3 separate regions of the Homo sapiens genome follow, and regions 2 and 3 are each linked to region 1. Evidence: fine-mapped expression QTL. A gene starts in region 1. Each other region holds a variant in brackets. All regions are shown on one strand. Distances are from middle to middle. Region 1 holds the start of GOLIM4 (golgi integral membrane protein 4). Region 2 has its middle 92 kb from the start of GOLIM4. Region 3 has its middle 170 kb from the start of GOLIM4.

Evidence for each region.
Region 2: its variant is fine-mapped to the expression of GOLIM4 in fibroblasts (GTEx, PIP above 0.99).
Region 3: its variant is fine-mapped to the expression of GOLIM4 in ileum (CEDAR, PIP 0.95).

Annotation. Positions count from the first base shown.
Region 1 is chr3:168,092,145-168,100,335 of GRCh38, forward strand. GOLIM4 (golgi integral membrane protein 4) reads right to left here and starts at 3,780. Exons shown (of 16, transcript NM_014498.5): 1 at 2,955-3,780. The coding sequence starts at 3,141. RefSeq lists silencers at 3,556-3,605, 3,896-4,135 and enhancers at 3,807-4,308, 4,506-4,555.
Region 2 is chr3:167,999,987-168,008,177 of GRCh38, forward strand. No RefSeq gene overlaps it. Among named protein-coding and RNA genes, the nearest start is that of GOLIM4, 92 kb to the right of the region's middle. The variant C/T (reference allele first, on the strand shown) is at 4,923.
Region 3 is chr3:167,917,224-167,925,414 of GRCh38, forward strand. It overlaps the pseudogene LRRC77P. Among named protein-coding and RNA genes, the nearest start is that of GOLIM4, 170 kb to the right of the region's middle. The variant G/A (reference allele first, on the strand shown) is at 3,718.

The DNA of each region.
Region 1 (8,191 bases):
CTCACTTGAAAGCAGTTTAAAAACTTTAAAGGTTATATAAACACTGTGCTGGCCAAAGATTGTTATTACCTTTGCCACCAGTATGTGACCTCTGTCCCACTCCTCAGTATAATTAAGGTGCCAGTATGGGAGATAAATAGATGACTGATTGCTAAGAGGGATAGATAAACAGGCAGACATAGATATTTTTATAGTGGAAGGGGTTTGCCTAGTCTCTGACCTTTCTGCATGCCATCCCCACCATCTTCTAGTTATGGGGCTCTTCTACAATAAAACTTGTTAACTTGGGGTTACAAGTAACCCACTTTCAAAGGAATCTATGGAGTATAATCTATTCTTAAACTGAAGGTGACCTAAATACGCTCACTTAACGAACGCACATCATCAGATTATAGGTCTAAACTACTGAAATTTTTTCAAGAGTCATTTTTAAAAAGACCACTCTTTTTAAAGTCATTAATTCTGATCTTAATCCAAGCCAGGTCAAGCAATCCCACCTAACTAAACAAGTATTAAGACTGGAGAGCCTGATGTCCTAAAAGCCCATCTATGCAGGTGGTACACAGTGCTGTTGAGTAAAATGTCATTTGTCTTGGAAAAGGGAAGCAAAAGTTGCATACCACCAGAAAATGTACATTAAATGGCTTACACATGGGAAATCCAAAATAAATGCTACTGAAGTCAAAAGTGAATCCACAAAAAACAAAAACAAACAAAAAAATACTTTAGCCTGCTTGTGAAATAATTATTCATGCACAATTATACTGCAAGTTTTGTAGCACCATAATTAGAGAGGAAATGACAAAAGAATAAATTAAGAAAGGGACTTTGAAGCCACTTATTCAAATTAGGTAGAACATTTCCATCTGCTGCAAAACAAAAGTTGTATATTTTAATGATCCTGTATTACCATTTACCACCTCTCTTCCCCACTACCACCACCACCACTAAAAAAAGAAAAGGCAAATTAGAAAAGAAATTTCTAAAATTTCAAAATGAAATACTGCAAATAAAGGCCATTATTCAGAAATTAGGGCCTCAGTCAACAATATCCATCGTCCATCATAGGCCGTTGAGGCAAAGGAGCTACTTGAACAAAATATTTTCTTGTTTTATTTGGCTTTCAAAAAGCAAAGACACAGAAGCAAAGTCTCAGAAAGACAAAAGTGCCTGGGATGAACTTACTCGCCACAGTTCAGAATAATTTTTGTTTGTTGTTTGAATAAACATGCATTGATTCCCCTAATGAGTGTCAGGCACAGTGTGGTGCTGAGGAGGTAATGGTGAAAATGACAGCCTTTGCCCTCATGGGACTCCTAAGAGACCAAGGCACACACAACCTCATATAATCCACCATACATGCCCCTTCCAGCCATGTTTATGAAAATCTAGTCCTGTTATACTATTAGACGGTAAATTTTTCCCTTGGTCTGACTCCATGGAACTTCACAGGGAAGCAACTGATACCTTGTAAATAAATAAGTAAACAAATATCCATATTCTCATACCAACAATAACTCATGGGTAAATTTCAATGAGTTTAAAGAAAATTTTGTGAACCTAAGAGCGTATCAAAACGGGTTTTACTTTTGAACCAAGCCGAGCCATATATTTTCATTGCCTGTGGCTATGCAGCGTCAGTAAGCTAAAAATACTTTTCTTTCTTCTAAGTTGGGAAGAGCAAGTTAAGTCCAAACAATCGGATGTGTATCATTTTCTCTCATCTTAAATTTTTTACTAGAAAACACTCAAAATAACTGAAGCAAAGAAGAGGCATCTGTTTCATATCTGCACACACATACACAGAAACATCCCTCTAGCTTGCATCTATCTACCTAGCAATATTAAACAAGCTATATTTGCATCATCAGCAAAGTCTGCCAACATTTCACCACTTACAGCTATTTATTATTATTTTTTGGTTGGGGAGAAAGCTGCATAAGTATTGAAAACTAACCACAAGTAAAAGCTTGCAAAAAAAATATGTATAGGATACGTCCTTAACAAGAGGACATGGTGCTGACTTTGAATTTACGTTAAAAGTAAATTCAAATTCAAATTCTGAATTTACATTTAAAGTAAATTATGTTTGTGAAAATTACATTAAATTAGATTCTAAAATAGGATAGAAACTTTAAGTTCTTCTACAGGTCTTGCTCAAGTTGGGTTTGCTGTGCATGGCAAAGTGAAAACCTGTGTTTCTCCTCTTTGGCTTCCCGAAGCTAACTGTAACATACATGCATCTCTGTGATGAAGTAAAAGCTACTTAGGAAGACAAGTAAACCTGTTTTTAAAGAAATAAACTACTGCAGGATGGTGAATGGTATGTAGTGTGGACTTTTCCCACACATCCAGCATCTCTAAAGACATCCTATTAAATTAAAAGAATAAGAAATAAGAAACTAGCAGGTCCAGATCTAGGTTCCTTCCATTCGACTGGGCCATGACTTTAATTAAGCTGCTGGGTCATGGCTTAATTTTCCCTTGAAAAACAGCACAGTTTGAGAAATCTCTGCCAAACTCTTCATTTTTTAAGCAACTGACAAAGTCAACAAGAAAGCAAATACCTAGAATCCACGGAACAATGCTCCTCAGAGCAGGGCTGGCAGAAGCGGCGGAGGGCTACCAGTTTCCCTGCCCCGATTGCAGCTGGGCCTTTGACAAGAGCTCGGGTAAAGGACTATCTGTGCACCCGCCCACCAAACGCCCAGCGGGACGATGGGCTGGTGCTACGAAGTTCTAAACCTAACCGCTGGGAGGAAGAAGCGGGAGGATGAGAATGTCATCTCCCCTGACACTCTGGTGCCGGCAGTCCTGAAACGCTCACCTCTGACGTCCCTGAAGGTCAGAGGTGGCAACCACAGTGCCAATAGCTCACCAAAGCCACTTTTCCTGCCCGGGTGGAGGCGCGGGGCAAAGTTGGCCACCGGCTGCGCGCGTCCCGTTAGCCGTACCTTGTAACTGGGCGGAGAGGGACTCCTGGTGCTGCTGGTACTTGAGCGCCACCGCCTCGGCTTTCCGCAGCTGCGTCTGCAGCTCGTAGTAGAGCATCGCGCCGTAGAGAAAGCCGAACACGACGGTCAGCAGCAGCAGCGTCTGGAAAATCCGCTTCTGCTTTCGGGAGCACATCCCGTTTCCCATAGTCCCGCCTGGACCCAAAGCCGCGGCCGCCCCCGCCGTCTCCTCCCCTTGGTCCGAGCGAGCGTCTCAGCAGCGGCCGCCGCAGTAGGTGGCCAGACGCAGCATGAGGAGGAGATGCCAGACACAAAAGCCGGCCCGGAGGGGAAGTGGCGCCCGCTCAGCCCCCGCGCGGCGCGGGGCGCGCAGCCATCGACGCCGCCCGGGCAGCTGCAGCCAAACTTCTGCGAGGCTCGTTCTCCGCGAATGCCCGGGGCCGGGAGGAGGCCCTCCGCATACTTCAGAGCCGGCTGCCCTCGCGCCTGTCCCCAGATGCCTCCTGCCTTTTTTCCTTCTTCCCACTTTTTGGCCCCGCTGCCCCCGGGCAGTTCTTGGAGTCCCGCCCTGGCCACTCCCCGCCCTATCGCGGCGGCTCCCACTGCACGACTTTGTTGCCACCTAAGGGAGGGGGTGCGCGCCCAACAAAGGGACCAGGACTCCGGGCCGCGCCCCCGTGCGGCCTGCCCAATGGGTGGAAGGGTGGGGGCCAGCTGTCTCGGCTGGTTTTGGGGACGGCACAGCGGTGTCACTGACGGGTCGGCTGGTGCCTCTGCCGCCCCGCCACCTCCTGCCCAACTTACGTGTCACCCACGGCCCGGCTATTCTGGCCAACGGGATTCCGGGAGGAAGTCCCACTCGGCCTCCTTGCTCATTGGGCCCGTCCGAGCAGACGCTCCCTCCCTTCGGGGAGGCAGTGCCGGGCTCGATTGGATGCCGGCTTTGTCCGTCCGACCCCAGGGCCGCACCTTCCCTCCCAGTGCCGGGGCCGGCTAGGGGCTCTGTGGGCAGCGCGGCCGCCTGGCGCCGGGGTGCGCCCACGTGGAGTCGGAGAGGGTGGGAAGAGGCAGGCGGAAGGGCGAAGGGCGGGGAGCTTTGGGTGGGCGGGGGACTTGTCCGGGCCTGAGTCTGGGTGAGGTTCGGTGAACACGTGTGTGTGTGTGTGTGTGTGTGTGTGTGTGTTCCAGTTCTCGTTCGGAACGCACGTGGAGAGCGGAGTAAAATGTGTGTATGAACGAAAGAATGGATGGCAGTAACTGTGTGCACTCTGCTGAGTACACTTTCTTTCCCTGTCCAATAAACTGATGCGGCAGACACATGGGATAGCTACATAGCACAATCCCGGTAGTCAAACCAGAGATGCCATGTCGACTGCCTTACCCCATCCAGTGTACTAGCCTAGATGTGTGTGTGCCCACAGATGGCCCGGCAGGAGTCGGGAGACTGGAAGCACGCTAGACTTAATGTTCAATTGTCCACGTGGGCTGGGGAAATCGGCTTGCCATTGGCAGAGAGGAAAGAAATGGTCTCACATTTCTCCTCTAGCTGCAAATAGAATAATTTAAAAACAAATCGTACAGACTGAAATGAGTATCCATTCATTTTGTCATATGTATTTGTTTTATTGGTGGCAAAACACATCAGTTACATTTCTAAATTACATTTTAAAGGGCAACAAAGGTTCCCTATGTAAAAACTAGTACAGCACAGGAAAGGTAGTAACCACAAACCTCTTCGAAGAAATGTATACTGCATTTATTTTTTCTGTGTACTTGAGGGGAATAATTAAGGTTATGCACAAATGATAATTTTTGTTTCTGCTGTTGACCTGAATTCTAAGAAAAGTAAATTTTATCTGTCTGTATAGTGTGGTGTAATTTATGATACACTGCATAATTTTTATATTCTAACTGGACTTTAGTCGTTACCATTGCTAATGGGCCTGAGTGCTCAAAATGGGGGTAAATCTCTTTAGCTAAATGCAACAGAAAGACAGTTCCTGGTGCAAAAGTTTTTTTAGGTGGACTCTGAAATTATAGGTTGCTAAAGCCCTAAAATAAACTGAATTTATAACGATGCTACCCTGTGGCATTTATACCACTGTAAAAATAAAGTGTGTCTTGCATGTGCTTTTCCTTAATAAATAATAACTTGCGTTAAATTATTCAAAATGCTTTCGTGTGCAGATACACTGTCTCACTGATCACAGCCAGGGTGTTAGACTTTCATGTTGGTAAAGAAGCCAAAGTTTATCAAAGTGACTATGACAGCTCTAGGACCTTTTAGGTCTTGCATAAAGTTAGTTACTCAGCAAGATTAGAATCCAGATCCAAACCCTGCTCTATGTCTTTTTCTTCAATAGAAACAATGTTCTCATTCTATTAAACAAGTTACAGTAAGAAATTATATCTCCATTAACATGAGAATCTGATTGTAAAAGAAAACAGTCTAAAGGAGTTTGGGAGTTTTGTTGTGTAAATACTACATAATCTTCCTTATTATTAAATCTACCACTTTAAATTCCTCTTTTTTAGTTTGACTCTCAGAAATTAACATTGGATAATTACTGGAATCTCTTTAAAATTCCTCATAACTAAACATTCCTTACTGTTGTCAGAGTACTTTGTTAAACAAACTCTTCCTCCAAAAACACTATCCAAATTTAGGCTGGGCATGGTGGCTCACTCCTGTAATCCCAGCACTTCTGGGAGGTTAATGCGAACAGATCGCTTAAGTTTGGGAGTATGAGACCAGCCTGGGCAACATAGCAAAACCCCTCCTCTACAAAAAAAAAAATATATAAAAATTTAGCTGGGCATGGTGGCGTGCACCTATAGTCCCAGCTACTCGGGAAACTGAGTTGGGAGGATCCCTTGAGCCTGGTAGGTAGAGGTTGCAGTGAGCCAAGATCACACCACTGCACTCCAGCCTGGGCGACAGAGGTGAGACTCTGTCTCAAAATAAATAAATATATAAATAAATAAAGTTTATGGCAATAATCTTGCCCCATATTTGAAGAGAAAATTATCCTAGCCACAAAAGAAAAAGAAGTTGTATAGAGGGTTGGAAAATTATTGCTCATATATTGTACAATATGTATTTTAGAATCTTTGGAAAATTCTTATGTTTCCTGAATGTATGATTCATCTTAAACCTCTGATTCCTTTGCATCTGATTCCAGACTCCAAAGATATTCTTTGCCTAAAGCTGCTGGCTGACTCTACAGAACATAATAAATGCAGGCCATAAAACACAACTCAATATTTTAGTCATAAAATTTGAAAGACAGCAAAAATTATTACCTGAACTTATCCATTATTTCAAATTCAAGAAGGGTATGTAGAAGTACATAAAATTACTAATGGTGGTATTTTTATAATATTACATTTCCAAGGTAAAGTATGCTGCTAGTTTCCTGAAAATGTCAGTATAGAGCTTTTGAGCGGCCAACATGAGGAAGCTATCCAAGGCCTATAAAATGAATTTACATAACATTGCCTTTGGGTAGCAATTATAACATAACAGCTGTTTATACTGGTCTTGGAAGGTGTGTTGTTCATTCTATTTTATTTTTGCTTCTTTGTTATTTTAAAAATAGTATATATAATTATATTTCTATATTCCATATATTTAACAATATATTTAACTTTAAATTATAAACCCTGAAGAATTTTACTGATTTAGTATTTTATTTCTGAGGCAGGAAGAAATTAACTTAAAGATACTCAAGGTCTTACATTTGAGAAGGGCAAATATAACATTTGGGAATATTAATTCTCTCTAACTTAAGTGAATTTGTCATTTTAATCAAATTTGTTCATTTTCAAAATAAGGGAAGGAAAAAATAAAAAGTTGAGAGAGACAGCTGACGTATAATTTCTAAAAGTAAGATTTTAAATTAATAATATTTAGGATCCTAGAGTAAATAATTTCTATTATCTAAATCTTTTATTTAAATTTCTTTACTACAAATGGAACTCAATATTTTGTAATTTGTAGGAGAAATCATCACCTAAGAAAAGGTGATGAATAGTAAATAAAATTTAAAATAGCTTTTCAGTATTAATAAACTAATTTTAATCTTTTCATCTGACAATTACAAAAGTTATTTATCCTATAAAACAATCTTCACTCTATGATGTCTTCACCTTTTTGCCATTTCATCAGTTTGCTGTCCCCTAATGAATACACTTGCCTTGCTGATTGCCACTTTTACCTGACCTGTTTTGAGAGGTAAAGAAAGCTGCATTCAAGGTATTATGTCTTTTTGAACATTTTGTGAAAGATGTTTTGAGACTCCTTTTTCATAGGATTTTGATAATGACCTAGTAGTAATTGTTAGAAGATTAACAAACTAAAAAGTAGGTCTGTGGTTGAATGCATAACTGAGTAACTGAACCCCACTCAATGTATCTTTATGCCTTGTTTACATCTGTCACTACGTTGCCACCTTTGTAATTTTCAACTATATCTGAAGAGGAGGGCAGAGGAGAAAGTAGATGATTTGTTCTTATTTATAAAAATGCTTTTCAATGAGAGAAACCTTACCATCAATATCACTAAGAAATACCTTCTGAGGCCGGGTGCGGTGGCTCACGCCTGTAATCCCAGCACTTTGGGAGGCTGAGGCAGGCGGATCACGAGGTCATGAGATCGAGACCATCCTGGCCAACATGGTGAAACCCTGTCTCTACTAAAAATACAAAAATTAGCTGGGCATGGTGGCGTGTGCCTGTAGTCCCAGCTGCTCGGGAGGCTGAGGCAGGAGAATCGCTTGAACCTGGGAGGCGGAGGTTGCAGTGAGCTGAGATTGCGCCATTGCACTCCAGCCTGGCAACAGAGCGAGACTCCATCTCAAAAAAAAAATAAATAAAATAAAATAAAAATAAATAAATACCTTTTGAATACAGACTACTAATAATGGACGTGATTTAGAAGTCCCTATTTGCCACAGGATGTGTAGCTAGTCTAAAGGAAGAGGAACTATCATTTCAAACCTCTAACAACATTCTAAAGCAGGATATCTAGCCAACCCTAAACTTTTCCAAATTCTAAGGCAGTATACGAAATCATTATGAATATGTTGCTTAATGTTTGTTACAGCTAGCATATAATGAGCTAACTACCACATTTTTTTTTCAGTTTAATTTCATAGGAAGTTAGAAAGAATGGAAAGGGAGCATATGTGAGCCTCAGAAGTGAACTTCCTAAATCTTCCAATGGCTCATCCAGCTTC
Region 2 (8,191 bases), 92 kb before region 1:
CTTCTTCATTAAAACTGATCATACGTTCATATCAGAGTCTCAGCTACACATCAAATTCATACTATACTATTCAGTTTCCATTAGTAATGCCTATGACATTCTTTAATGGCTATTGAACAGTCTATGCTAAATGAGAAAATTCTCTCTATCGTAGATATCATATAAAATCAGTAGTACTATCAAGCCATAGAATGTCTGCTTTTCTAAGATATCAAGAAACCTGAATTAGCATTAAGATTCCTCCCAGAAGTCAATCCCTGGCATAATGTAGACTTTGTCTTATTATCCTTATGACATCAAATATTTTAAAAATACATAATGTCATGAAACTATGCGATGTTTGCTGGTGGCTAGTTGATCCTCCACACTGAACTGTGGCTCACAGCATCTTGATGTCACCAGCCTGATAGTGCAAGGAGAATGAATGGTAGAGTGAGGAGGAAGGAAGCAAAGCCAAGCTTATCTATCCATAGGTAGCACACATCAATTCAAGAGCTGAGCACAGGCCACAGGGAAATACCAAAAGGATTAAAGTGCATATATTCCTCTGTTCTATGTGCATACAAACAGGCATTTATTAATTCAGCTGTTCTGTCCTCAAAAACCAGGAATATTTCCAGGTGTGGGGCTAAAAAAGGAAAAAGCAGAGGAGAAGGATGGGAATCAGAGTCTCCATTCTATTAACCTTGACTGTGCCCATATGCCTTCTTACAGCTCTGAGGAAATGGAAGCCAAGATGCTATAAAAAGGGAGGATAGCAGAAACTCCCAGGTGCTGTTAACACCCACTCCAAAGTAGGGATGCAGAATAAAGCTTCGAAAGCATTTGAATGGTATAGCCATGGGTCAAATTCCTATCTGTCTCCTTATGTCACAGCAGGGAGAAGCATAAATGCCTGGGTCTATTATTCCAGAGTAGAACCTGGTTCTATTGTCCAGTCAACTGTAATTGGCTCACCATCCCCTGATGATATATATTCATCATGATATCATGATCAGCACTCCACTGAAGCACAATAAAATAGGAAAGGCCTGCCTATGTTTCTTGAAACTTTTATTTTATTTATACAATATATACACATATATTCATACACACTGTTTCATGATACATTTATTTCTTCCTGTGGTCTCACTTAGAAATAAAACTAATTAAACTGCCAAACAGCTCTCCTATTGGGATTCTGCATTATTCTATAAAAGCCAGAGTTAATAGGTTTGAGAAACATTGTTTTGAGGGAGAGCAACTACACTAGTAGTTTTTTCTCTAAGAGCAGAGATGAATAAAACTACTGACTCATGCAATTTCCCATTGCCATACTCTAAAATTCCTCAGTGTGAATCTAATCTGTGAAAGACAGCTGTATCTCACTTTTATATATTTGTAATTATTAAAAAACTACTTCACCATAGACAATGTGGCGTGTCTACAAACAAGGGTATGGGCATGTGTGTGGTTAGTGGTTAGAGGATAGTCAACTTAGGAGGTTAATATTGGTGGTGCCTAATTATGAATACACATCCCAGCAATGGTTGACCAGCTCTTAATCTAGTACAGTGACTCAATCCTGGCTCTACATTAAGATCATCAGAGGGCTTTCAAAAATATTTTAGCAGTTATACTATTTTATTTTTAAATTATCATACAATAAAATCAATATTTTATTTGTTGTACAGTTTAATATTTTATTTTGTTGTACAGTATTCTTTTGTTGTATAGTATATTTTATTTCTTTTGTTGTACAGTTCAATGAATTTCAATACATGTATAGATTTGTATAACTACCCCCACAACCCAAACACCATTTTACTACCCCAAAAAATTCTCCTGTGTGTTCTATCCCTTCAGAGTCCCAATCTTCTCATAACTATTACCCCTATCAATCATAATTTGTTGAGAAGCTTTTAAAAAATATTAATGTCAAGCTCTGCTCTCAGAGCTTCTGATTTAATTAGACTGGGGTGAGGTCTGGAGGTCTTTTTTAAAAATGTAATACACAGCCAGGGTTGAGAAACTGGTGCTCTCATCGAAGTCCACATTCTGAAGGCTGCTACCATAAATGCTTCCACTATCTTTATCTCAATTCAGCATTAAGTGTTTCGTTGGCCAGCATTATGGATATTAAAGACTTCTTTTCATTGGGGAAATAGTGTTCAAAATATGTGAATGAGTTGTAGGAATTATGGTACAGGCACCTCTACCCTCTCACAAAGAGGTATGAGGATCTGATAACTCCAACACCCATTGCAGAAGAACATATGCCTCTTAAGGGAAGGCTTGGGCACAGGATGTAACTACAGGTTTAACAGAATTCTGCTCCTAAAATATTATAGGATTTGTCCTGAGCAAATCCTTCATGCCTCATGCCTGTCTAGAAAGCCTGAAAAGATTGGGAACTATAATTTCATTGGGCCTTAAGAAAAGTTTAGATGTCTGTTTCGACTTGCCTGTAAATATTTGCTTTGCAGATTTGGTCTGAGACTTGCTTTCATTGTAATTTGCCATCTGGTAGAGAAATGTTGAGGTGGGAAGCTTACTCTTTCCAACTCCTAACTTACAAAGCAGTAGTTCTCAATCTTGGCTGCACGTTAAAATCACCTAGGGAAATTTAAAAATCCTGATGCTCAGACTGCAACGCAGAGCAATTAATTCAGAGTCTCTGGGAATGGGATCCAGGCATCATTATTTTAAAACTCTCCAGGTTTGTAGCCAAGGTTGAAAGGTTACTAATATCTGCCAAAATATTATCTAATAATTTTGAACATATAAATTGGCTTAAATTTATTCAGCTCATTAAGCTGAATTCCATCTTCCTTCACCAACACATCTAAACCTGTCTTCCAGCAGAGCAGCTGGCTGGCTGCCCAGTAACACCATGCAGCTGCAGATCATCTTTACCCCTGACCTCTCCCTTTTGAGTCATAAACTCTGCCTAGAAGATATATCAGTTATCTATTGTTGTGTAACCAATTACTCCCAAACCTAAAAGAATAAACATTTATTTTCACATAGTTTGTGTGGGCCAGAAGTCTAGGATAACTCATCTAGGTGGTTCTGGCTCAGGGTTTCTAAAAGGGTTGCAGTCATGTTGCAGTCATCTGAAGGCTTGACTGGGGCTGGAGGATCTGCTCCATGCTCACTCGTGGCTGTTGGCAGGAAGCCTCAGCTCCTCACAGGCTGTTGGCCAAAGGCCTCAATTCCTTGCCACATGAATGAAGGTCACATTACAAGGCTGTTTGAATAGCCTTATAACATGGTAGCTGGCTTCCTTCAGAGTCAGTGATCCAAGAGAGATAACATGGAGGAAACTAAACTGGCTTTTATGACTGAATCTCTGAGTCATACATGGTCACTTTCCTTCAGTTTTATTTGTTTGAAGCCAGAAACTAAGTCTAGCCTATGCTCAAGGGAAAGGGAACTAGGCTCTATCTCTTGAAGGGAAGACTATCAAAGATTTTGTGAACCAATTTTAAAACCATTACAGAAGATAATTGACCAGGTTTTACAGAATATAAAATGTATTTTGACTCTCTTTATGAAATAGAGTCTAATTATACTAGGGTATATAAACTTAACAGGAATTAGATACCCACAGAACCCAAAACACTCAGAGCTAAGACCACAAATTTGAATTTAATGTATTAATACACAGCTATTGTAATTGGTATCCATACTTTAAATTTTGAAAGAAGAAAGGACACACCAGATCAAAAGATATCATCTCATCTCGTACAAGCCCATGTTCCAATGAACTAGTTCTTTAAAAGATATGTACTTTATGAGACATGCTATGTATGCGTTAATAACAGATAAACAGAAATGACACTGAATTTCAAGCTCCATTAGTAACATACAGGGAATGGGGAGAACAAGGTCAGCCAAGATGGTAAAGGACAAAAGGATTTCATTTCCAATTATTTAAAATAGTGTACAAATGTAGCAACAAAGATAATGTTGAGTGCTTGCCAATTTAAAATAGAAGGGATTATAACAAAGAACCAGAAAGCCTTAATAGCTGATGATCTCAAAATCTTCTATTGTGTGTAGAAATAACTGTTTTTACGACAAATATTTGGACCATGTAGACCAGGTGTTTACAGTCTGAGGACCAAACCTGACCTGCTTTCTGTTTATGTAAATAAAGTTTTATTGGCACACAGCCATGCTCATTCCTTTACCTATTGTTTCTGACTGCTTTCACAGTACAAAGGCAGAACCGAGTAATTTCAAAAAAGGCTCCACGGCCTGAAAAGACTAAGAGATTCACTGTCTGCCTTTTACAGAAGTTGTTTGCCAATTTTTGATGTAGACGAAACAATGGGGATACAAGAGTACTCATAACTTCATTAACGATAATCCTTAAGCTTTTATCACAGATCCTCTGGGCCTCAAAGACAGATCCAAGAAGAAAAAAGATTTTTTTTTTAAAAACCATGTCATTATTTATTAAAACTTACTACATTTGAGGCCAAAGGACTAAAAGTTAATCAAAATATTTCCTTTGTCACGCTAATATTGTTCTGCTTCATAAAATGTATAATGCTGAAGTAAGCCAGTTTTCTTTAGTTTGGTCAGTTTAAGATCCTCAAACTAGTTAAGATATAAAGGGGAGGGAGATTTTCTGGCAAATAAAATCATAGGAAGGCAGAACATGGGAATTTGAACACCATTTACTTTCTTTGTGCCTTTCTCTGACTCTCTCCTTTTCCTGCCTTCTCCTGTCTCCTCCTTCCCTCCATTCCTACTCCTTTTTATGTATTGGCATCATTCTTGTCTGCTGCAACTTGGTTTTCTCCACATGATGAGGACTATGACTCCTGCAATCTCCTGGTGTATGTGTTTCACGCCATCTCCAAAGCATCTAGACAGCATTTCTCTTATTCAGCCTCAGTGCAGAAATCTCAGACTGAGAAATTGAAGGGCTA[C/T]TTTGGGACATGCTTGCTTTCCTCCATCAATCACTATGGTCTAGAAGATGGGGTCTAGAAGATGGGGTCTAGAAGATCAGGTTTTGGCCTACTCCTGTGGTTACAGGACCTGCTACAAACGAGGGGCAGAAGTGATAGTGTGGAGACAAAAGGCCAACCAGTGGATGAGCACATATCCTATTCCAATAACAACTGGCCCTCCTATCACAGTCACAAGACCCAAGGAACGTGTTACAGATATAGCATCTATTCCTCAGCTTAGGCAGGCCTCTTAGCAATCACAATTAATTATTAAATATATTCTAATCTGAAAACCTCTCTAGATTTCACAGATTCATTCACTGGTTTCTCAAGAAATTCTTTATTCTTTATGCTACAATTGATGCTTCAAAGAAGAGACATACAATGTTATTTCTTTCTTTGACTATCTCTTTCTTAGATCAAGTAATTCCAATATCTTGGTTCCTCCTCCAGAGCCTGTGGCTGAGACTTCATTCATTTTTCGACCCTCTTAGTACTTGTTATTGCAGAATTTAATATATACCTTCTTAATATATGAAACTCAGAATGTGACAATGGACAATGATCCAAACAATCCTTGATATATTTGAAATTAACAGTGGAATCAGACTGAGCTGGGAAGAATTCCTAGCTCTGCCATTTATTAATATGTGTCATATGGTCTTGAAATAATCAATATTTCCTTTTTACAGATGAGGACTCTAAGCTATCAATTTAAAAAATATTTATTGAAAATTTACTATATGCCAGTGCTTGGGATACAATAATGACAAGAGAAATATGGTCTCTACTTCCAGAATATACATGTCAAGGAGAGTATAGACAAATGTATAGACTGCTTCCATGCACTGTGATATGATATGGATAACATGGGTGCTATAGAACAGAAGGGTATGCATCCCAGACTCAGGAGTCAGAAGAGTGGGAGGTAGACTCTTCCCAGAGGAATTGGTATCTAAGATGAGACCCAAAGCAACCAGCCAGGCAAAAGAGAGAAGAGCAAATAAGGGTTGAACAGTGTTTCCGGGGAGGGTAGGTGGCAAATATACCATGATATAAGAGAACATGATGATTTAAAGGAACTGAATGTAATTCAGCTATGAGTCCAAAATCTTCAGGTGGCAAGTGACAGAAATGCAACTAGGTCAAATGAAACAGTAGATTTTATCAGATCATTAACTAACCTATAGAGAGACTTGGCTGGCATCAGGGATGGCAAGATATAGGGACTGGAAAAAATGCCACAACTCTCTCGTCATCTCTGCCTCTAACTTTTGCATATCTTTATAGGTAAAATTTGTTGTCTACTTTTATAGACTATTTTTTTTCCACACAACGAAGTAAATGAACACCAGAAGCACTGAATTCATGACATAGTAGTTTTACCATTGGGAGAGAAAACAGAGCTGCTCTCTTCTATTTGCCACAGCCTGCAAAAATGCCAATGATTGTGCAGCGTATGAGATTTTATCCACCTTACAACTAACAAGTTTGCCTGCTGCAGTTTCATGGATGTTGGCAGAAGGAACTACACTGCTGGGTCAGAGACAAAGGACTCCATTTCTAATGATCCAGCAGCAGTCGTGAGCTTCATGTTCACATCAGTTCCCCTTAGTCTCCAGGTGCCATGAGGTCCATGCAGAGCAGCCCAAGTGGATGTTGCACACACAGTGGGCATCTGTCATAGCTGAGGATCTCTGATCTTAGGAAACCCTCATCTTACAAAGAAGCTGCTGTCAAACCTGTCTAAACTTTTTCTCAAAGGAAGACATCATCTTTATTATTCAAGTCAAGAAACAAATCTGCCCTCCAACCCAGAAGGAGATACTATCTCTAGCTTCCAAGGCTTTTTGCTGTGCAGGTATCATTGAAAACACAGTCTAGGATAAAAACTGTCACAAGCTGCGTAGAAACTCCATGGAGGGATTGGCTTCCAACAAAAAATTCCAGGGAAGGAATCAAAATTGATGTATTTGAGGTCAAGTGCCTGTCCTCTATCAAGCACTTTGTCCAAGGAGATGGGATAGTATTACGAACACTGCAAAAGTCAATTTCCCATCCACACATGGGTTAAGGTCAGACACCAAGACATTAGGAGAGGAATGTGCTTGACAAAGATTAATCACATTTATTATGATTCAGTATTAGAAGGGATAAGATGGGGCCAGATCATAAAGAATTATGTAGGTTATGTTAATTAGTTTGGATTTTTTCCTATGAGCAATAGCAATTTGTTAAATTTTATAATGGGGTAGGTGTGGTATCCTTAGAAAAATCACACTGGTACAGATTTTAGGGATTGGCAGTAGAGAGTAAATGAAGAAATGAGTTAGAGAACAGTTATATTAGTCCATGTGAAAGGTAACAGGGGTCTGAACCAGAATAGTGAGTATGGAGAGAAGTGGGCAAATCTGAGGATATTTTTGGTAGCAGTCAAAAGGAGAGAAGACAGAATCAAGGACAAACAACATGTTTTTGTTTTGGGAAACGTCATGAGTTGAGACAGAAAGCCTAGAAAGAGAAGCAGGTTTTAACAAGGTAAATTCAGTTTTGAAACTTACATATTTTACATAGGATGGGACACAGAAAGCTAGGCTAAGGAAATGGATTCAAGACATTTGTATAACACATAGATGGGAAGAGGATTGAACAGAAAAAATACCTCTAGTACAAAACCTGAGGAACACTAATATTGAAAGAGCAGGCATAAGAAGAACCTGTAAAAAAAGATAATGTAGTCAGTATGCTAGGAAAAAACTAGGAGAAAACAGTAAAACAGAAACCACAGAAGGTGATTGAGAAATAGAATTAACTCACTCTTTTTAATGGCTGTGTAAGATGACATAGTATAGATGTACTACAATGTAATAGAACTAAAAACAAAACTAAGCATTAAAAGAAGTTAAATGTTAAGTGCTTTGGAAGACAAGGTTCTTCAGTTGTGAGAAGCGGATTCCATCAACCTTACAGGAATACTGTGGGGATTGAAGTGGATCCTATTCACATACTTCTTACACTATGAGGGCATTCAATACACGTCAAGTTTTCCTTTGTAAAATTAAGTCACTGGCACATGTGGCTAAGATTATGCTTTTACTCCTAGAACTCTTCCCAATCACTCTTGCAAATAACCAGTCATTGCATGTGTACTAGTTTTGTTGTGCCCCGTTATACTCATTGCCAATAAACGTGCCTTCCTCCCACAACCCCCACCCCCCACCCCGACTATACTCTTGGTACCAAATCCT
Region 3 (8,191 bases), 170 kb before region 1:
AGTCCTATGTTAGATTTAGTAGTTAACCATTCTCTTTAGGAGACAAGTAACAAGATGTTTATCTTTTGTATCCAGCTGCAGAATTTTAAATATGAGCAAAAACCATCTCATATCTTTCAAACAGTTACCAAGGATACCTCAGATACAGCATTTATCCTTGGCCGAAAACCACATTGAGACTCTTACTGGATTCTCCAGTTTACGGTGCACTCCACTGGAATCCCTTATTCTCAAGAGGAACCCTTGTGAGTTCCACCAAAATTACAGGAAGCAGTAAGGCCGCAGACACACTAAGTCATCTTTTGCACTTCATTGAATATTATACTTTTAACTATATTTTAAAATATTGTCCCTCTCTTGCTCAAATTTACCCAGCAAATACTTATAGAATCTACTCTATGTTGAACACTTCATGCTTCTGATCTCACCTAAAGACTTTTGAACTAATCTTTCTTCATCTTTTAACAATTTTTTCTTAATATACTCTTTTCTCTTGGTTAATTTATAGTTACTGTGCAGATTTTTAGGCTCCTTCTGTAATGACTTTACCTATACAAAGTTGTTTAATTTTAGACTTTCAAATTCCACATTTTCTCCCACATGCTTAATAGATATTATGTCTTTTAAAAAATTATACATACATATATATTTTATTAAGTTCTATGTGACAATTTTATAAATTGTTTATTCTCTGGTTTTACTTTCACTCTTTGGGCCCCAAGGGCAACATTAAGTGAATACGAAGAATTCAATTTACTCCAGTGCTTGAAAGAGCTCAAAAACCTGCCAAGAAGAAACCATTTTTATTACTTTGTCACAACTGGGAACATTCCTAATGATAATAATGGAACCTAAACCTTGAAGTGTGCACCCAGTAATATGCCCACTTATTTATCTCCAGCTAATTCCCAGTACCACTAATTAGTGTACTTAGGGGAATTAAAAGGATAAAAACAAGCAACTGAATTCTACAACCTGTATTTCCACCCATGACTGAGGTCATCTCCCCTCCCAGGCGAATCTGTCAAACAAAGAGTTATATCATCTCCAGGGTCCATTTATATCCTATGATTACAATCTTTTGTTTACTTCAATTTCAGTAAAAGACGTAGTTTTCACCATCTTCTTTTCTCACACTGCTCTTTTCCCATGAACAGCAACTGTATTCCAGAAGCCTATATGATGTTAGACTCTTCAACGCCTGACGTACAATGAAAATTTGTCAAAATAGAAATTATAATCTCTGTTGTTACATAAATCTCATTACTCCAGTTGTCTGCCCTATGACTGGAGTCTGGAAGCAAAATTTCATGTCTGTGATGATAATAAATTCTTAAATTGCTTTCACATAACAGTGAAAACTAGCAGCACAGTTGCTGTAATATTGAGCTAATATTTAACCATAATAATATTTTGGAGGTTTAAAATTATATTTCCTATAATCAAAGGAGGTTTAGCTGGACATTTCAACATCATTCATAAGAAAGCACAGTCCTAGTCATAAGGATAATTTAATAGTATTGTATTTCAGTTTTGTTAATTCATATGTGGGGTTTTATAAAGCATTTTGGTCCCAACTCAGCCACTTGCCTCTCTTCAAAGAATGCCTTACAATAATAGTATTAAGATGAATTGTCTGAAATTGGATATGCCCTGAGGTCTTACTGTAATTCCGTCTACAAAATTCATGATGTGGTATAGAGTTATGTAGGAATGAGGGATATAATGAGGTTCTTCTGTTTTTCCAGTATTAACTCTATTGGATTGAGTCCAAGGTGTATATACGCTGACTTTCAAGTTAGAAAAAGCCAGGTTATATTAACTTAGGTAGTGCAGGGTTACATTGAATAGAATGATGGGGTCATTTTAGAGTATGAAGAAAAGGTTTAAGCATCCACTCATGCTAAGGAACTAAGTTGGAATCAGAAGTTCATTCAAACATGGATTCAGTTACCCAGCCAAAAATCCACACCTTGAAGATTATAACAGCTTTCATTTTGTCACTGGGTATCTGTGTTGAGGATTTGGGCCAGAGCTTCAGATGACTCTTTTTACACACCATGCTCAGAATTATTTAAAGTACAAGCTTTTCTTGACCATTATCACCTAGAATTGTGACTGCTTTCCCTTCCTCCTTTGTTTCAGATCCACCAATAAGAAGACAGCACAATTCAAAAGAGAAAGGACTTAATGACAGAGCTAATAATGTAAATCCCAGTAGGTTAGAAGGTGGCCCCATTTCTGGGACACCTACAGGCAAACTTCTCTATCATTCTCTAGGAGTCAAACATGATATTAGTTCATTACTGCTTAACTTAAAAAAAAAATCAGTGGCTAGAAATTCTTGCCAGCTAAGTATGAATTTTGAAGCCAGAAGACATAGATTTTAATATTTGCTTTGTCACCTACAGGCCTTATGATTTTGAATAAGTTACTTAAAATGAGGGATAAAAACCAATCTGACAGAGTTGTTGTGAGGATTTAAAGAGATGCATAGGAAGCAATTCATGTTAAGAAAATCATGCAGCCAATGGGGGCTTTCAAGGAGGTCAGTTCCATCATTAGCTGACTTAGCATATCTGCTAAAAGGTTTCAGTATCTTTCATGCAGGCAAATTCAAATGCCATAGATTTCTCCCAGCCAGAGCCCTCAGAATTCCCAGATCTAGAAAAGCTGTCATTCTAAAGAAAATGCTGCTTTTTAATGCCGCTATGTACATGACCACTGTTAACTGGATTGAACTGAAGGATCTGTTTCTGAACATAGAAGTGACTCCCTGAATTTGAAATAGGAGCTTTAGAAGTGCTCGCTTTCAGGAAAAAATAACAGCATAATATTATTTCCCACTCCCTCTTTTATATTTATCAGCCAGAATTCTTCTTTAACTATCACTGAATATTGTGGGCTTGCTTTACTTTCTCTCTCTTTCTAAACTTTTAACTTTGTAATGAGCATATATATCATGATCTCATTCTTTCTCTCATGGTTAGTTGGCTAAATCCACTCATTGATTTTTTTTCCCTTATAAGACTGTAAAAACTGGAATGAAATTCTCTTATAAAAACAGATTGTAGACAGTCCCATTTCTCTGATCAATATTTACCACCTGCTGAAAGATCTATTAGATCCCTGAAAGGGCAAGCTATGGCAAGGTCATCAGGTCAATTAATATGAATAATATTTTATTTTAGCTCCACTGCAAAGATAAGCAACACAGAATGAAGTGATAGCCATTCATCTTCCTTATAACAATAGGCAAAGTCCATTCACTTATAAAGAGAATAAGTGAAATAAAATGCTTTTGTTCAATATAGTTTTTTTTTTTTTAACTTTTGCTTTAGAGTATTCTCCTGTTTGCCAAACTTAAAAATGCTGGATGGAATCTTGAAGCTACCAGAAGATTGCTTATCACCAGAAACCAATATTTTTTCAAAAATATGCCTTGTATCCTAATGCAGTCTGTATAGAAAGAAAGCAATCATCATTGTTGCTAAAAGCTAATAAACACAGGACATGCATGATTAAATATTGCAGTTTATTTTATATCTTTTTGCTTTTCTAAATCAAGGTAGGAAAATATTTTCTGTAAAGGACCAGATGGTAAACATTTCAGGCTTTCTGGGCTATATGGTCTCTGTCACAACTACTCAACCCTGCCATTGTAGTGCAAAAGCAGCCATTGATAATATGTAAATGTATGGGTGTGTCTGTGTCTCA[G/A]TAAAACTTTATTTACAAAATGATGTGGCAGGCTGTAGTACTGATCTCTGCTCTAAATTTTAATGTCACATGGTTGATTGCACTACTCTTCACCAATATCCATGTGCCTTCCTTGGAAGAGGTGTATGATTCCCTCACTATTGAAGTCAGTTATGTCAAGCAACTTGCTTTGAGGAATGAAATGTAAATGAATGTGATATAGGTCACTTGCAGGCAGAAAATTTGAGAAACAGTTTGTGCCTTGTCACACTTTCTTTCCTTGTGCCATACCAGTGGGCAAATTTCCCGATCAAGGCCTATCTGCCTAGGTCCTGAGGTAAACCTGGCATGGAGCAGAGCCACGGTCATTCTATAAAAGATGGATAGTCAGAGAGTAAACCTCTGTTATCATTTGATGTTGCACCATAGCCTACCCTCTCCCTACTAACACACCTCCTTAAATTTAGGGACTGCAACATAACTCATTCAATGATGTATTTTCCCCCCAGAACAGGATAGCAGGCACTTGAAATGTTGAATGAATGAATAAATGGCTATTGTAGGAAATTATTAATGAGTGGCAGAATTATCGGGTAGGATACAACTTCAAAAGTTTAGGTGAAATGGATACCACATGTTCTTAGTTATAAGTGGGAGCTAAACATTGGGTCTCATGGACATAAAGATGGCAACAAGAGACACTGAGGACTACTAAAGGTGGGAGGAAGAGAAGGGGAAAAGGACTCAAAAACTAACTATTGGGTACTATACTCAGCACCTGGGTGATGGAATAATTCAAACTTCAGCATCATCTAATATACCCAGGTAACAAACCTGTATATGTACTGCCTGAATCTAAAATAAAAGTTGAAAAAAAAAAGCTTAGGTGAAATATATTGAAAACTTTAGGGCAACAGTGTTGGAAATCGACGTTATAAGGGCATAGGAAATTGGAGAGTTATGACAGCCAACAAATCATTTTATTGTTTAAGCTACTTTATGTTGGGTTATCTGTTTCTTGCAGGCAAAAACATGCTAACTGACAAGAAAATCATGGGTTTTATACAAGGATAACAAGTGCTGGGTTGCTTAGCTATGAGGAAGGCTAGGCTCACTGGTAAGTGTCTCAAGATGTAGATCATGCTAATCTGAAGATATGTGTTGATGTTGCAATCTGATGTCCTGTACAGGTTCTATGAGCAGTTTGGCCGAAGTTGGTAATATCTGTCTATGCCAGAGTGGGACTGATTAGAAGACCTATAAACTAAATAACATCAAACCCCAAAGTTGCATCTGTCTACTCACTGTAGTGGCGGTAGTTCTACCAGTCATCAGTGGTGACCCATAATGACATATCCAATAATTGCATTGCTGTAGTTTCTAGTATATCTGCTCACTTGACCTTTGTAGTACTTTCTTGCATCTTCTATAATGCACAGAGATCTGAGCCACTCTCTCCTTGGTTTTAGCATACCAGAAGATGTACAGCGTTGGAGAATTCAGGGATTTTTATCAACAATCAAACTATATTTGTGGAAATTTTGTGCATAAGTGCCAAAGATGGCTGACATCGGACCACATTCTATTTAACTCAACTGAATGACACCAAGCTCTCATCCTAAAACTTATAGTTACATCCACCCTTCTGAAATATTTAATTATTCTCCAATACACTGGAGGTAATAGGTATAAAAAGAATGAGCATGTGCAACTTAGTATCTCATATCTAATTTTGTGTCCCAAGTTCATTCTTCCCCTGAATGTCCCATGTCTACCAGGTGCAGGATTATCTGGATGGGTCAGTTCAAAACAATTTCAGGGAATAAATTGTGTAGGGGACTCAATTTTCTGAGACAGAAACATAATGTGAATAACTCCTTTGTTAGAAAATAATTTCAGTGACAGAAAGCCTTTCAGTTCATAAAGAAAACTTACATATCAACAAGCCTAGCTCCTCACTAGTCCCAGTGAATGCTTACATCAATCAGCTCTACAATATCCAGTAAAGGACTTTCCAATTCGCCTTTGAATAAACTGAGGTATTGGAAACATCTAAGAAAATGGTTTTTAATTCTTCCTAATCTTCAGGGAGTTCTTCCTTATATTGAGCTGATATCTGCCCTCTGTAACTTTCAACTAATTATTCAAATCTCTCAAGTGATTATAATTAATTCCATCTTATAAGGAATTTTTCTCAGCTTCCAGCCTCTTGAAAATACTCTGATATTTTCTCTAATATTCAAGTGGAAATGTAAATGGGTAACGTAAGAGTCTGTGGGGTTAGGAGGGTGGAGGAAAGGTAAGGGAAAGCTAATGAGAAATAACCAAAGCAAGAAAAAGAATTTTATTTTCTTCAAGTTCTTTGTACATCCAAAGTGGAAGATTCCTAAAATAAATTCCCCATACCACATTTTAAAAATTAGGTTAGCAAGCTTACTTTTTAATTTATTTAGAAGCCAACTACTTCCATTTATTATTTCTTTCCAGAATAGAACAATTATCACTAATTGTTTGTCATTATAATGCCAAACTATGTTAATAGATGCCTATTTTTTTAAAGGCTAATTGCAATCATGAAACCAAATATCTAATTAGTTTTAGAGCTTTGGACCACATGCATCAATATTTGAATCATTCAGGTGTATATTTGCTTTCTGCTTTTTTGTCTCTTCAAAAGAAGTATTATATGCATTCTGTTTATAATTTCTAAATGGTCATTTCAAAACTGATTATACGAGTTTATACAAATCATACTGAAATTTGTTGCTTAAAAAATCTTCATTTTTCTCTAAGCTCTCAGTGTCCTTGAGCTATATATATTTTATGGCAATTTTTACTTAATAGTTTGTATGCTAGTTATTTTTGACAATGACTACTAAAATGCAAGTTTCTTCAAGGGCAGATTCACCTTAGTTCTTCTTTATACCCCTCAAAAACCTCAGGGTTATTCTCAATAAGTATTGAGTAGGTGAGTGAACTTTGGATGTATACTCCTTGAAATTATATTTCTGGAGCTGGAAAACTTTAAAAAAATGTATGTCATGAGTCTAAAGAAATAAACATTATATGGCTGAAAAAATACTTTGTGAAAACCAAAAATCTCATGGAATCATGAACTTATCTATGGGACAGATGTTAGCCCTGAGGTTGTTCTGGGCTTCTTTTCTACCCACTTCCCATGACCAAATCAGTTCACTAGTCAGCAGTTCTATCCTTCCTCTCCTTCTCCTTCCATCTAAGGAGCTAGAGCTGAACTGCTTGGCCACTGATTGCTGACATGCTGAGTTTTCTACAGCTGGAGTTTTCAAGAGGGCTTTGATTTTGCTTTCCCCAGTTTTCCTTCTTCCACACTTGAAAAGTGGTAAGGGTACCAGCTTTCTGTCTATCTCTGACTCTCTCTCTCTCTTTCACACACACACACACACACACACACACACACACACACACTTTTTTTTTTCTTCCACCCTCCTGCACAGCAGGAGACCTTGCCTTGATCTTTGAAGGTCTACAGCAAGTGGTCTAGGCTAACTCAGTGCTGGGCAAATGGAGCAAAAACTCTTTTCTGCTTCCTTGCCTCCATGTCTTTCAGAGCTAGCAGATACAGCTTTTGTTCTATAGGAGTGATTCTTTCTAAATGTCAGCTCAACAGGATGATGGTCACTCTTGTATATCACTTAGGCATGAGTTCTGTTGAATCCCAGCACAATTTACCAGACTTTGTCAGTGGCTTTTGGAGTAGCAAAGACTCAATTTTTAATAAAGTGTTATTTTGTTTAGCTGGTCATTGTCATCATCACTTATCTCTTTCCAGAAAATTGTGAGAGGTATTTTTCTAGAGAAGGATTTTGGTATTCCAGAGTCCTGTGGCTAAAACATCATGCTAATCTCAAGTTACTCTCAATATTAGAGTATGTGGTTACATATGAAATACAAATATGCTGATAGTTTCAAATTGAACATTGTATCTTATTTGACCTAAGTCAAAACCCACTATAAACCATCAAAGCAATATCTTGAATAAGTCTCATAGATTCCAGTCATCTGGATTCTCAATCTATTGCCAGTATGGTCTTAGATAGGTAAAAGATGTTCCCTATGCAGATCACATTACACAAAAAGCTAATAATATAGCAATCCCTTGTTGCCCAAATGAAGGATTAAAATAAGGAACTAATATAAACATATATTTATTGTCACACAGAGCTATAAAATGCAATGAATAGCTGAATATTGGTCTGTATTATTCGGAGTAATTATAGTCTCTCTCTTTTTGGCTTTCTAAAATAAAAATAAAGACACAGCAGTTGATCACTGAGTAAAAGACCTAAGATGCCTTTCAAATGAATTTGTACTAAGTATCCACAGAGTATATTGTCCACCATATTTTAGAAGTAAAACTCATTCTGATGAATTGTTTTTAAATGTTTATTTACTTCTTTTTGCAAGCAGACACCCGTTCAATGATTACATATATTTTCTCTGCTTTTAAAATCAT